Linked DNA regions of Homo sapiens. The protein of the gene in region 1 binds, or shares a complex with, the protein of each later gene. Each region holds a gene or a part of one and is shown in the gene's direction. Other genes may lie near its edges.

The links. The genes of interacting proteins can lie anywhere in the genome.
Region 2: the proteins of INTS4 (region 1) and INTS7 are in contact, whole or in part, in a cryo-EM structure (PDB 8RC4), measured with the Homo sapiens proteins. Residues at the interface, in NP_291025.3 of Homo sapiens: Glu536, Met539, Asp540, Arg571, His572, Ala574, Tyr575, Asp578, Ser579, Ser610, Phe613, Arg620, Leu624, Leu627, Gly631, Glu634, Leu635, Phe638, Arg641, Asp642, Arg645, Leu646, Glu648, Leu649, Gln650, Lys677, Leu678, Trp679, Asn680, Val681; in NP_056249.1 of Homo sapiens: Lys137, Asn138, His140, His141, Arg144, Gln145, Gly175, His205, His206, Asp207, Ala208, Ser244, Ser245, Leu246, Val247, Lys282, Thr283, Pro284, His285, Thr286, Thr321, Ile322, Lys325, His326, Gly686, Tyr689, Glu704, Gln707, Gln708, Leu711.

What each region holds. Positions count from the first base shown.
Region 1 is NC_000011.10:77,984,635-77,991,702, reverse strand, and holds part of INTS4 (integrator complex subunit 4), read left to right. Parts: intron 1-403; coding exon 404-595; intron 596-7,068. UniProt on the Homo sapiens protein: Component of the integrator complex, a multiprotein complex that terminates RNA polymerase II (Pol II) transcription in the promoter-proximal region of genes.
Region 2 is NC_000001.11:211,941,558-211,948,586, reverse strand, and holds part of INTS7 (integrator complex subunit 7), read left to right. Parts: intron 1-1,881; coding exon 1,882-1,980; intron 1,981-3,617; coding exon 3,618-3,803; intron 3,804-6,475; coding exon 6,476-6,763; 3' UTR 6,764-7,029. UniProt on the Homo sapiens protein: Component of the integrator complex, a multiprotein complex that terminates RNA polymerase II (Pol II) transcription in the promoter-proximal region of genes.

The sequences.
Region 1 (7,068 bases):
AAAATGTTAGTGTAAGGCTGGGCACCGTGGCTCATGCTTGTAATCCCAGCACTTTGGGAGGCTGAGGTGCCAGGATTGCTTGAGCCCAGGAGTTAAGACCAGCCTGGGCAACATAGAGAGACTCCATCTCTAAGAAAAAAAAAAAGTATACCTATTTTACAGAGACATAAACTGAGACTCGGAGAAATTAAATGACTTGCCTAAAGTCATAGGAACTGGTAAAGGCAAAATTGAGACTCATGGCCTTGTCACCAACCCGGTACTCTTTCTGGTTTATAATACTGTATTTTCCTAAGTCCATCAGCTAAATATATTATTTGGTATAATGGAAAATCATTTCCACCAAATGAGGCAAAGTTAAATTTGCAGATTCTGTGTTTTCGATTTTCTCTACCCCTTGCAGCCACAGGAGGAAATTGCTACTAAGAAACTCCGACTAACAAAACCAAGTAAATCTGCAGCACTCCACATAGATCTGTGTAAAGCTACCTCCCCAGCAGATGCTTTGCAATACTTGCTCCAGTTTGCCAGGAAGCCTGTCGAGGCGGAAAGCGTAGAGGGAGTAGTCAGGATTCTCTTGGAACATTATTACAAGGTAAGAAAATCTTGAGGATCTGATGGGAGTATATCATGGGAGTTGTATCATGTCTGCAGAATGGTTAATATTACAAATAAATAGGGTATTCATTAGGAAGCTTTTATTGAGTGTCTTCCAAGTGCTAGGTACTATGGATACCGAGATAAAAAAGATACAGATCTTGACCTCAGAAAGTTATACTGTGTATAGTAGATGGAAACAAGACATGTCAATGATAAGGTGCATCATACTGCTGAAGTTACTGTGAGTGCAGTATGTGCAGAGTACAGTGGAAGCACAAAAGAGGAGTAAATATCAATCATGACCCATTCATCTCTGGAATGTGGTCCTGCTGTTCCTTTCCTAATTCATGGCCCTCATATCTAATTGCAGTGGCCCTCTTTTTTAATTAAAAATACATTTTTTTTTTTTTTTTTTTGGAGACAGAGTCTCGCTCTGTTGCCCATGCTGGAGTGCAGTAGTGCAATCTTGGCTCGCTGCAACCTCTGCCTCCTGGGTTCAAGCGATTCTCCTGCCTCAGCCTCCTTAGTAGCTGGGATTACAGGCACGTGCCACCACACCCTGCTAATTTTTGTATTTTTAGTAGAGACGGGGTTTTGCCATGTTGGCCAGGCTGGTCTCGAACTCCTGACTTTAAGTGATGCAGCCACCTTGGCCTCCCAAAGTGTTAGGATTACAGGCGTGAGCCACTGCGTCTGGCCAAAAAAACTGTTTTTGAGACAGAGGCTCACTGTCACCCAGCCTAGAGTTTAGTGGCATCATCATAGGTCACTGTAGCCTGGAACTCCTGGGCTTAAGTGATTCTCCTGGCTCAGCCTTCCACGTAGGTGGGACTGCAGACGTGCCACTACTCCAGGCTAAGTTTTGCATTTTTTTTTTTTTTTTTTTTGAGACTTGGTCTGTCACTCAGCCTGGAGTATAGTGGTGGCACAATCTTGGCTCACTGCAACCTCCGTCTCTTTGGTTTAAGTGATTCTCCTGCGTCAGCCTCCAGAGTGGCTAGGACCGCAGGTGTGTGACACCACACCCAGCTAATTTTTTTTGTATTTTTAGTAGAGGTGGGGTTTTGCTGTGTTGGCCAGGCTGGTCTTGTACTCCTGACCTCAAGTGATCCATGCACCCTGGCCTCCCAAAGTGCTGGGATTGCAAGCGTGAGCTACCATTCCCAGCCCAAAAATCATTATTATTATTACTATTATTATTTTTGAGATGGGGTCTTGCTTTCTCGCCCAGGCGGGAGTGCAGTGGTGCTATCACGGCTCACTGTACCCTCGACCTCCGAGGCTCAATTGATCCTCCTGCCTCAGCCTTCTGAGTAGCTGGGACTACAGGCATGTGCAGCATGCCTGGCTAATTTTTGTATTTTTTTTTTTTTTTTGTAGAGACAGGGCTTTGCTATGTTGCACAGGCTGATCTCGAATTCCTGGGCTCAAGCAATCCACCCTCCTTGGGCTTCCAAATTGCTGAGATTACAGGTGTGAACCACCACACTCAGCCCCCAAATTGTTAAGCTTATGGAAAAGTAGATAAAATACTATAGTGACCTACCAAATATCCATTCCTAGAATTTAACAGTTATTAGTATTTTGCCAAATTTGCTCTATTTTTTCGCTGAATTTTATTTTATTTTGTTATTATTTTTTTTGAGATGAGTCTCACTCTGTTGCCCAGGCTGGAGTGTAATAGCACTCCTGGGTTCAAGCAGTTCTCCTGCCTCAGCCTCCCAAGTAGCTGGGACTACAGGAGTGCGCCATCACGCTCAGCTAATTCTGTATTTTTAGTAGAGATGGGGTTTCACCATGTTGGCCAGGCTAGTCTCGAATTCCAGACCTCGGGTGATCCACCTGCCTCGGCCTCCCAAAGTGCTGGGATTACAGGTGTGAGCCACCGCGCCCAGCCTTGTTTTGTTGAATTTTTAAAAAGATATGTCATTTTTTTCTAATTATTTCATTACATATCTATTAAAAAGGGATACCTTTTTGTTGTTTTCTTTTTTTTTCTCACTGCTATGAGAAAGTAGAGGGACTTTTTATTTTTTAACATAGCCACCTAACCCTAATGAATAAAGTTAAGTAATTCTTTAATGTCATCTAAGAATTAGTTGATATTTAGATTTCTGTAGTTGTTCTCCCAGTACCTTTTTATAGTTGATGTATTCAAATCAAAATGCAAACCAGGTCCCCACATGGCATTCAGTCTTTTCAAAAATCTACAACAGTTACTATTTTGGTGACATTGATTTGATGAAGAAACTGAGACAGTTCTTTTGTAAAATGTCTTGTTTTCTGAATTCATTTACTTCTTTAAGGATTAACTTGTTCCTCTGTTCTCTGTATTTACTATGAACTGAAAGTTAGATCTATAGGCTTTGTTAGATTTAAGTTAAGCATATTTTTGACAATTTTAAGACTATGTTATAAATGGTGACTTGTACTTCATATTGCAGCTATCAGCATGCAAATGTCACCGTTACATTGAGGTCTTCCTTTACCCTTCTGTTTCATATCGAAACTGCCTATCCCCACCCCGCACTTCCTAGTCCCCTTCCTTGATTTTGTTTTCTCCATAGTAATTACCATCTTCTAATATTCTGTATAATTTCTTGTTAATTATGTTCCTTGTCCATTTCCCCATGCAGGAACATAAGCTTCCCTTGAGCAGGGATTTTTATGTTTTTTAATTGTTGTTTCTACAGAATCAAGAACAGTGCCTGGTAAAATAAATATTTGTTGAATGAATAAATGAATTAATTGATGCTTTTGTGATACATTTTACTCAACAAATATATATCAGACTTTGTTCTGGGCACTGGACGGTGTCCATTAGCACAATTGTTAAGTCTTATGCGTTGCAATTGTTTGCCATATGTGTCTATCTCCTTCAGACTTTGAGCTCCGTAAATTCAGAGGCTGCAGATCCATTAGTCTCTATCCCAGTGCCTGGCAGGTTCCTAGGAACATTGAAGGGACATTATAAATGTTTCACTTATGTTTTACGTGAATAAAATCAGGCTTTCTTTTTTTGTTGTTCTTTTCTTTAAAAAATTTTTTAAAAAATCGTATCTATCTATCTAGAGACTGGGTTATGAGACTGGCTAATTTTTATATTTTTGATAGAGATGAGGTTTCACCATGTTACCAAGGTTGGTCTCAAACTCCTGGGCTCAAGCGATTCACCTACCTCAGCCTCCCAAAGTGCTGGGATTACAGGCATGAACCACTGTGCCTGGCATCTTTTTGAGTGTTGCTCTGTTGCCCAATCTAGAGTGCAATGGCGTGATCACTGCCCACTGAAGTCTGGACTCCCAGGCTCAAGCCATCCTCCCACCTCAGCCTCCTGAGGAGCTGGGACCACAGGCACATGCCACCACTCCCGGCTAATTTTTTCTTTTTAATTTTTTTTGTAGAGATGGAGTCTCTCTGTGTTGCCCAGGCTGGTCGCGAATTCCTGAGCTCAAGCAACCCTCCTGCTTGGCCCTCCCAAAGGATTGGGATTACAGACGTGAGCTACCACATCTGACCAAAATCAGGATTTCTGTTCTCAAGAAGTTTTCGATCTCTCAGTGATCTATTTTCCGTTAGTCTTTTTCTTAGCAATATCTACCATTATTATTATATTAAAGATCTGTTACCAATAATCATCTATAATAATACTTCTTAGAGCAGTTAACATTATATTGCTTGTTAGAGTTTGAAAGCACTTTCCATATGTAATATTTTATTTAATCCTGGTGACAGCACCATTGTTATCTCTAAATTCCAGATATGGAACTAAGCTTAGAGCTGTTTAGTATCCAAGGTCACCCAGCTAGTAAATGGAAGGTATGGATTTGAACTTGGGTTTTTTTTTTAAAAAACCTTTTGTTATGGAACATTTCAGATATATACTATGTAAGTAAAGAGAATAGTTTAATTAATTCCCATGTACCCATTACCTGGCTTCAAAAATTATCATTTTGTGGCCAAACTTGTTTCATTTTCCCTCTTCCCCAATCCACTTCTACTTCTTTACCCTCACCTTCTCCACCAGATTCTTATGAAAATAAATTCCTGGCATCATATTATTTTAATCATAAATTTTGATTTATATCTTTAAGTGGTGAAGACTCTTTTTTTATTATTATACTTTAGGTTCTAGGGCACATGTGCACAACGTGCAGGTTTGTTACATGTGTATACATGTGCCATGTTGGCTTGCTGCACCCATTAACTCATCATTTACTTTAGGTATTTCTCCTAATGCTATCCCTCCCCCAGCCCCCCACTCCCCAACAGGCCCCGGTGTGTGATGTTTCCCGCCCTGTGTCCAAGTGTTCTCACTGTTCAATTCCCACCTATGAGTGAGAACATGCGGTGTTTGGTTTTCTGTCCTTGTGATAGTTTGCTGAGAAGGATGGTTTTCAGCTTCATCCATTTCCCTGCGAAGGACATGAACGCATCCTTTTTTATGGCTGCATAGTATTCCATGGTGTATATGTGCCACATTTTCTTAATCCAGTCTATCGTTGGTGGACATTTGGGTTACTTCCAAGTCTTTGCTCTTGTGAATAGTGCCGCAATAAACATACGTGCACATGTATCTTTATAGTAGCATGATTTATAATCCTTTGGGTATATACCCAGTAATGGGATTGCTGGGTCAAATGGTATTTCTAGTTCTAGATCCTTGAGGAATTGCCGCACTCTCTTCCACAATGGTTGAACTAATTTACACTCCCAACAGTGTAAAAGTGTTCCTATTTCTCCACATCCTCTCCAGCATCTGTTGTTGCCTGACTTTTTAATGATTGCCATTCTAACTGATGTGAGATGGTATCTCATTGTGGTTTTGATTTGCATTTCTCTGATGACCAGTGATGGTGAGCATTTTTTCATGTGTCTGTTGGCTGCATAAATGTGGCGAAGACTCTTAAAAAACATAATCTTTTGTCATGTCTAAAAGCAAAATTTAACTCAGGTGTTCTGATGTCAGATCTCAAGCACTTTAACCAGTCCATGCTGCATGCATTAATCAAGTGGACCCTAGCTCCTAAGGAAATGAGGAGGGATGCCAGATGGACCCAGTTCTAGATTGTTGACCATAGTGTTTTTTACCCTTTCTTCTGTTCTATCCAGAAATGTGGTATTTTATGTTAATATTTTAGTGGATAAAACTACTCTGGCTTCTGCTTTTTCCTACTTTTTTTTTGTGATCAGGCATTAGTATCTGAACTTATTTCACATGATTGATTCTTCACTTATGCTACTGTGCTAGTAGCTATGGAGGATGCAGAGCTGTGAGATATGTTCTTTGTCCTTTAGGGGCTAGCAGTGTAGTCGGCAGACCATATATGTAGTATGTAGATAGTAAGTGCTAAAGTTTTCCATTTGCTTATTTTTTCATTTGCTCAGCATGTCTGAATACTTACTCTGTGCCAGGCTTTGTGCTTCATGTTGGTAATAGAGATGTAGATGATGTAATCCCTGATCTGAGTCTTGAGTAAATAAGAAATGAATTAATAACAATACAGTGTTTCAGGTCTTATGAAATCTGGGGTAGGTTATGATATGGCCTCAAAGAAGGGGGCGATTAATTATTGGAAGCAGGGATCCAGAAATGCATTATAGAGTGGTAGCGATGCTTGAGAAAAGTCCTAGAAATAGATTTTGGCCAGTTGGAAGACAGGGGGAAAGACATTTTAGTTGTGAGCAACCGTGAACATGGGCATGGAGATGTGAGACAGGCTATCACATTAGAAGAAATGCAGCTAGTTTGGCTGGTGCAGATTTTAGGTTGGGAGCTCATCAAGAGATAAGACCAGAAGATTTGGAAGGCATCTGATTCTAAAGGGCCTTGTATTCTACCTTGTCAGTTTTTGTTTTAGAAATGTCACTCTGAGGGGAAGTATGGAGGATAAAGGAATTGGATGGACTGGAGTTAGAGTGACCAATTAGAAGACTGTAAGTTTGGGGAAAGGTGATGAAAGCCTGAACCAAGACAGTTTTAATGGTCAGAAGAAACAATTATTAGAGAAGGCTTCCCTGGAGGTAATTCTGTTTTTAGCTCAGGTGTGAAGGAGATCATTTATGTGTCATAGTAGAAGGAGTGCTAAGGGATTATTTCAGAAAGTAAAAGAACTTGAGTAAAGTATCCAAATGGATAAGGAATGTCACTAGGTCAGATGCTCTCTTATCTGCTTTTTTTTTTTTTTCATTTACATTTATTTTCTTTTCCCCCCCTTTTTTCCCTTTTTTTTCCTAACAAGGTCTCACTCCAGGCTGGAGTGCAGTGGTGCTATCATGGTTCACTGAAACCTCCACCTCCCAGGCTTATGCAATCCTCTCACCTCAGCCTCCTAAGTAGCTGGAACTATAGGCATGTGCCACCATGCCTGGCTAATCATTTCTTAATTGTGGTAACAATTAAAATTTATTATCTTAACCATTTTAAGTGTGCAGTTCATGTGTGTTAAGTACATTCATATTGTTATG
Region 2 (7,029 bases), on another chromosome or scaffold:
GACCTCAGAGGCACTCCACACTTTTCCAAGAGGGTATTGCAAAATCTGCACCATTCTTTTAAAAGGCAAAATGGTGACTTTCTGCCTGAAAACAGCCTGAAGTCCCTTGTGGTCCTCTGAGTCCACGCTTCAAAGATGTTTCTCTCCTTAGACACTAGTGTGGCATCAGAGGTCCACCAAAGGTGGATGTCTCTGCAAATACTTTCCAAATTACTTGTTGCAGGAAGCTGATTAATGCTATTTTAACAGTTAAATCTGAAAAAATAGAACCAGTGTCTTTAAATCTGTGTTGTGATTATCTCAGGTAATAGACTTGGCATTTGTACTATGAGTCTGTTGGGCACAAAATGTTCAATTGCCTGAACCCAATAAGGAATGGATTTTTCTGGCTTTTAGCCTTAACACCCAACTTTAAAAAAAAAAATGTTTACAGCATGAGCAACTAGGTGACACTCTGCTTGAAAGCAGGAGCCTAGAGGGACAGACAGCATACCACATGGTGCATGCAGCAGTTTTCAACCTGTGGTGTTGGGTTTCAATCAGGCTGGTGGGAAAAATATTAGAGATAGTTATAGAAATAGACACAAATCTTCTTGGAAGGCTGAGAAGTTTGCCTAACTTCAGTAATAGATCTGGCTGAAGGCGGCCTGATCTCTTTACCTTTAAACAAATTAAAATAGTAATAAAGAAAGGCAGAGTAGTTTACCTGGCTAGCTTGTTTACTCATATAAAGACTAACCTTTGATGTACCGTGAGTGCTTAAGTGCCTTTTACTCAGAAGTCCACAATGTCAATTTCCCTCTAATGGTGTTGACTCAAGCTTTTGTTAATTAATCTTACTGAATAAATGCGAGTCTGACTAGCTGATCAGGGCCTAGTTGCAACTGTTTACAGGACTCAGCAGGAGCCTGTAAGCGGCTGGGACCCTCAGCTGGACTGGCAGAGCAGAATATCTGTGTGTCAGCATACTTTATTTATCCGTTGCTGAATCGGGTCTGCAAGAACAGACCTCCCGCAGCTAGTGCCCCCGTGAAAGGAGCGCTGCCTCACTGTGGTGACTTACGAGGCCACTGAGACGGGAGTAGACTGAGGAAGGGATAGTAGACCAAGCAGGAATGGTTCTGGTTCACCTGAAGTTAAAAGTGTTCTTATGATACTTTCAGTTTTCTTCTATTAGACTGGGTAATCTTTAAAATATCTTTGAACGCTTAAATTCTGATTTTATGACCACTTTCATTAAGGCTCAAAATATTCTCTGTGGTGTTTCTGTACCTCTGCAGTCATGCTGGGATTTTCAAAACTCAGTTAAATGTGTGAGGCAGATTTGAGAAATAAGATATTTTATTAGAGTTTCAGGATTCCCCGACTATATAGTCCTCTTTCATCTGAATTCGACCAAGTTTCCACCACTGCTTACTCTGAGGACCAATGGCCATAGAGACAAGCCACCTAATGAAAGAATGAGCCAGCTCAAAGCCAAAGTCCTGCAAAATGCTCGGGCTTCTTTACCATACTGTTTATCATACTTTGCCATGTGATAGTTACTCTATATTTTAGTATCTAATATAATTGTTTAATAATATACTGATAGTTCTGAGCGCTGTAGAAATGTGGAATTTGCCTATTGCTTGGCCTCGAGGACTGTGGATTTTCTCATTTCTGTCACTTATATTTTATTGAATATACTTCACAATAAAGTAAAAATCTGTAATGAATGATTTAGTATGTATGCACAGTTCCTGGATGTGATGCCTAGTTCTTGATTGGTATGTACCTTTGTAATAATCTATATGGGCATTTGTAGTTTTATACTGAATGTACCACTTGTTGATGAAATTTGAAAATTTATTTTTATTTGATTTAGTTTCTTTTTTCCCCCAGCACACAGCATGCCTCTGCAATGCCATCATTGCTTTGCTGAAAGTTCCCCTTTCTTTCCAGAGATATTTTTTCCAGAAACTACAGTCTACCAGCATCAAGGTAATACAGGAAGAATACTAAGGTTAATATAGGTTTTAAAACCAGGTGTCTTCTGAAGATTATGTAGGACATAGCTACACTTCAGTGTGTTACCTTTGGTTTATTGGTTTTTTTGTTTTGTTTTGTTTTTTGAGACAGAGTCTCGCCCTGTCGCCTGGGCTGGAGTACAGTGGTGTGATTTTGGCTCACCGCAACCTCCGGGTTCAAGCGATTCTCCTGCCTCAGCCTCCCAAGGAACTGGGATTACAGGCATCCACCACCTCACGCAGCTGATTTTTTTATTTTTGGTAAAGATGGGGTTTCACCATGTTGGCTAGGCTGGTCAGGAACTCCTGACCTCAAGTGATCCACCCACCTCTGCCTCCCAAAGTGCTGGGATTACAGGCATGAGCCACTGTGCCTGGCTTACCTTTGGTTTTGATAAAACCTAGTTGTAAGCCATTTCTCTCCTTTATCAAGTGGTTTGGTGAAAGAAATGAATTTGGGAGTTAAACTCTCTCCCTTTTTAATTGTCAGTGCCAAATTCTATGAGACAGGCATTTGGGTAACTGGAGCTCTGTTGTTTGTCTCTCACCTCCAGGAATAAATTAGTGATTTATCACAGTAGCCTGCAAGGATCTTGAGCTGAGTCTATTCAGACCCAACTTATAGACCCAACTTAGAATGAATCAGATCCAGTAAACTGTCACCAGTTCTTCTTCCAAAGTACTTCTGCCTTTCAGTAACATGTTTTGAGGGGCTAACCAGTGAGTAGAATTAGTATTTTGAAATATTTAAGCCACTCACAATTCAAAAGCTATTTTTGATTCAGAAAATGAAATTGTTGGAAAAGGGAGAAAATTGTCACTTCTAAGAGATCTCCTGGATTATCCCTGTTAGTTAATGTCTTCAGTAAACTTTTACATCCATGCAAATGTTTTGATTACAAATAACAGAGCATTCCATTTCAAAATGACTGGAATAATGAGGAAGATTTGACGATCTAGATAAGAAGTCCTAAAGTAGGATGTCTCCAGGGTTGATCAGTAGTTCAACAACATTATCAAAAAGACTCAAATTTCTTCCATCTTTTCATTTAGCAAGACTTGGGCTTTCTTTAATTGATGTGTTTGGGATTTTTAATACATTTTTGAAGAAAAACTAATGAGAGGTGAAAAATGTCATTTGATTCATTTGTAGATATTGACTTTTTTTATAGCACAGTGACTTCGTTGTGTAGATAATCCTGGAACTTTAAGTTCATTTACATTTGAATTTAGTTTATTTAAAATTACGTAAGACCAAAGAGACAGCTCTTAGGTAATGAAAATTTATATAATGCCTTTCCCTACTAGAAGTGGTTCATTGTCAAAGAAATGCCTCACCACAAAAATTGGGAGAATAGTGCCTTTGCTTTTTTCTAATTCTCTATTATCCTCAAATAGAACTGAGGTTTGGGATGAAAACCACAGTGATGTTTAGAAGGAGGCACTTTAAAGGTACATCTGTCTCGTTGTCCTGGCACAGTCAGGTCCTGTGGGGGTGGGGGAGTGCACAATCGAATTTGTTAACCTGTAACCAGTGATTAGCACAGACATGTTTGTCGGAAGGAAGCTTGCTCTTGGTTGTTGGCATTTATTTGAGTGTTGGCATTCCAGCTTGCTCTGTCACCATCGCCCCGGAATCCTGCAGAGCCCATTGCTGTCCAGAATAACCAGCAGCTGGCGCTAAAGGTAGAGGGAGTGGTTCAGCACGGATCTAAACCAGGACTCTTCCGCAAAATTCAGTCTGTCTGTCTGAATGTTTCTTCCACACTGCAGAGTAAATCTGGACAAGACTACAAGGTAATTTAGAAAAGAGGCAGAATTGTGATACAGGTTTTATATGAGCTCATTGATGGAAGTTTTCCAGTGTTTTTCATGGTTAAATAGATTGCAGTTATACCTCCAAAGGGATCAGATGGACATAAATTAAAAGCCCACATTGGGGCTGTAAGGGGTTGATAAACACTTCTTTTTCTCTCCCTGAACCAGTTGATAGAGACAAAGCATCCAGGCAAAGATCAAAATATGAGTTTTATTACTGTTGGAGCTGTGGGAAAACCTAACTCCAATGCCTGGCAGCAAGGCCTTTCTAACCGTAGACCCCTGAATTGGATTTTTTCACCCAGCCTCAGTCAGTACGTATGGGAGCCTGCCCCTATAAAATTTATGGCAGGGCACAGAGGACTCAGGTGCCCAAAGCAGAAGAGAAAGAGCAAGTGCTTACCTTCCCATGTCTGGTTCCTGCCCAGAAAGTCACCCATCAGCAAGACTCACCTCCTCCCTGCTAGGTCAGTAATATTAATCTAACGAAAGGTCTCTCTTACATCAGGAGGTCCCTTCAAACGTCAGAAGTTGGAAAATAAGTGTCTCCCTAACCCACCCAATCCCTCCCCACAAAAAATACACATCTATTTAGTTTTCTCCATTTTAAGTAAATTTTATCATTAAAAAAAGTATATAGCATTTCTATAAAATGATCAGATAAAGTAAAATCTTTTTTTAAGAGTGTAACCCTAGGGATTTGCTGCCTTGGGAACTCAGGATATAGGTAAGTAATAACCTGAATTAGGCTACATTGTTAGCCAGAGCTAAGATGCTGAATCTGTGCCCATGAAATGCCAGTGTTCGAGATAAAGAATGTTCCTTGCTTTAGACATTTATTTCCGATTCCCTGGTGGTTTATCCACAGTAAATGAAGCAAGGGACCAAGTCCACAGTTGTAGCAGCGAAGTTACTCAGATGCCCAGATTGGCTGTGTCCAGGTTTATTGTGGCATAGCATGGAAGGCAGGGTATCAGTGAAGGTATAAAAAGAGAGCATTTTATTATCTTTGGTGGTTTTAGGTTAAAAAGCCAAGGGAAGGTCTGGTTCTAAACTATTATTACTTTCTTAAGCCATTACTACTTTCTTAACTATGGCAAGTTCCTCTCACTTTGGCACTCTGTCCACTCTGACACGGCTGAGCCTTCATTCTCCTCTTTTCCTCTGTTTTGACTTCTGTGCCATACAGCATGGTACCTTATGTAGCCACTCAATAATTTGTGAATGATGAAAAAATTATTTACTATATTTAGAGTATAACTGTTAAAATTGGGTATCTGCTGTCACAGAAGGTTGTAATGAGAATTTACATAATTTATCCCTGTCTGCAACTCTCTCTTCACTTTGAATTTGAAACAGTAGTAACCATGATTCTCTTTGTTACTTGCATATAATTTCTACTGTTAAGAAAATAACATTCAAACCTAGAAGCTATGGTCTTCTGCTTGTTGACCTACCTCTCAAGAGGCATTGATTAAAGTCAGGAAGCTGATATAATAAGCCGAGTAATAACATGATTACTTTGCAGTGTTATTCACAGTGAGTTTGCAGCTTAAGATGCAGCCATCCATTCAGGGTGATCAGGTTCCCTAGGCCTATTTCTGGTCCTTTTAAGGAAGTTCTTTGGTTGGCATATTCTTTAGGGAAATAAAAACTGTACAAAGGCTAAATGTGAAAAAGTACCTGTACTATAAATAATTCTAAGACCTTGAATTGGTTGGTGACGTCAGTTCATTACTATTACAGGTAAATGTCTCTGGAAAAGTGACATGATAACTGCTCCTTGAGACACAAAGCTGCAGGGCACATTTATATAATTAATTACACCACAGAAACACGCACATAAACCTAGAGTAATTTGGTCAAATACACATTAAGATCACCTTTATTTGCATTCTCAGGATAAATCTGTCTCTTGACACGTTTCATCTTGGGTACAGGTAAGAGTACGTCAGCAGGTTTTATTCTGGTCTTTGAAGAACAAAGGCATGAGTGTCTGGCTAAATGAATGAGCCTATAAATCTGTGTTTTATAACATATTGTACTTCCAGTCTGAACAAAACAGTGCTTATTAAATGAGCAATGTACAAATGGTTCAGTTAATTTGTTAAAGGAGTAAGGAATCACTACATTAAGTAATAAAAATCAGACTAACTGTTGGGGGGGAACCTAACTTAAATTTGCTTAGTGTTTTGTTCTTTTTCAGTCTCTTAGGTTTTAAACTCTCTGGAACAGGTGATTTCATCCTATTTCTTCAGAATATCTCTTCACAGTCTAAAGGAAGATAGGGATTTAGAGATGGGGTTGAGTAAGCAAGGAAGAAAGGCCAGCATGTGAAGGGGCTGTCAACGGCTCTGGGAGCTCATTCTACTCAAGTAGAGTGAGGAGCATCACTTAGTAGTTCAGAGTGTAGGCCCTGGAGGTAGTCTGCCTGTGTTCAGATTCCTACTCCGTTCACTAATCATGTGACTTTGGAGACATTACTTAACCTGTCTGCCTTAGACTCCTCATCGGTGAAGCAAGGATGATAGCAGTACCTAATTTTTTATTGTCTGCATGGTCTAAATAAGCTCTTAGAACAGGGCCTAACTCATAGTAAGCACTGAAGAAATGTTAGCCATTGTTGTTAGTTAACAATTGTTTCATTGCAGATACCCATTGACAACATGACCAATGAGATGGAGCAAAGGGTTGAACCTCATAATGATTACTTCAGTACTCAATTTCTGTTGAACTTTGCTATCCTTGGAACACACAACATTACAGTGGAATCTTCTGTGAAAGATGCCAATGGTATAGTATGGAAGACTGGTCCCAGAACTACCATATTTGTAAAATCCCTGGAAGACCCTTATTCCCAGCAAATTCGCTTACAACAGCAGCAAGCCCAGCAGCCATTACAGCAGCAGCAGCAACGCAATGCCTACACACGGTTTTAACCATGGAATGAATGCACTGCAGACTCTCAAGAGATCAATCAAATTGCCAGAAACAGTTTGGTTTTTCATATGGAATAAGTATTAAAGTTACAGTGTAGTTCATTTATTCATTGATTTTTGTAATGTAATATTCTGGAAAAAATTTTGTTTTCTTAAAAATTTTGTCTGACAGCTGGGCGTGGTTGCTCACGCCTGTAATCCCAGCACTTTGGGAGGCTGAGGTGGGCGGCTCACGAGGAGATCAAGACCATCCTGGCTAACACAGT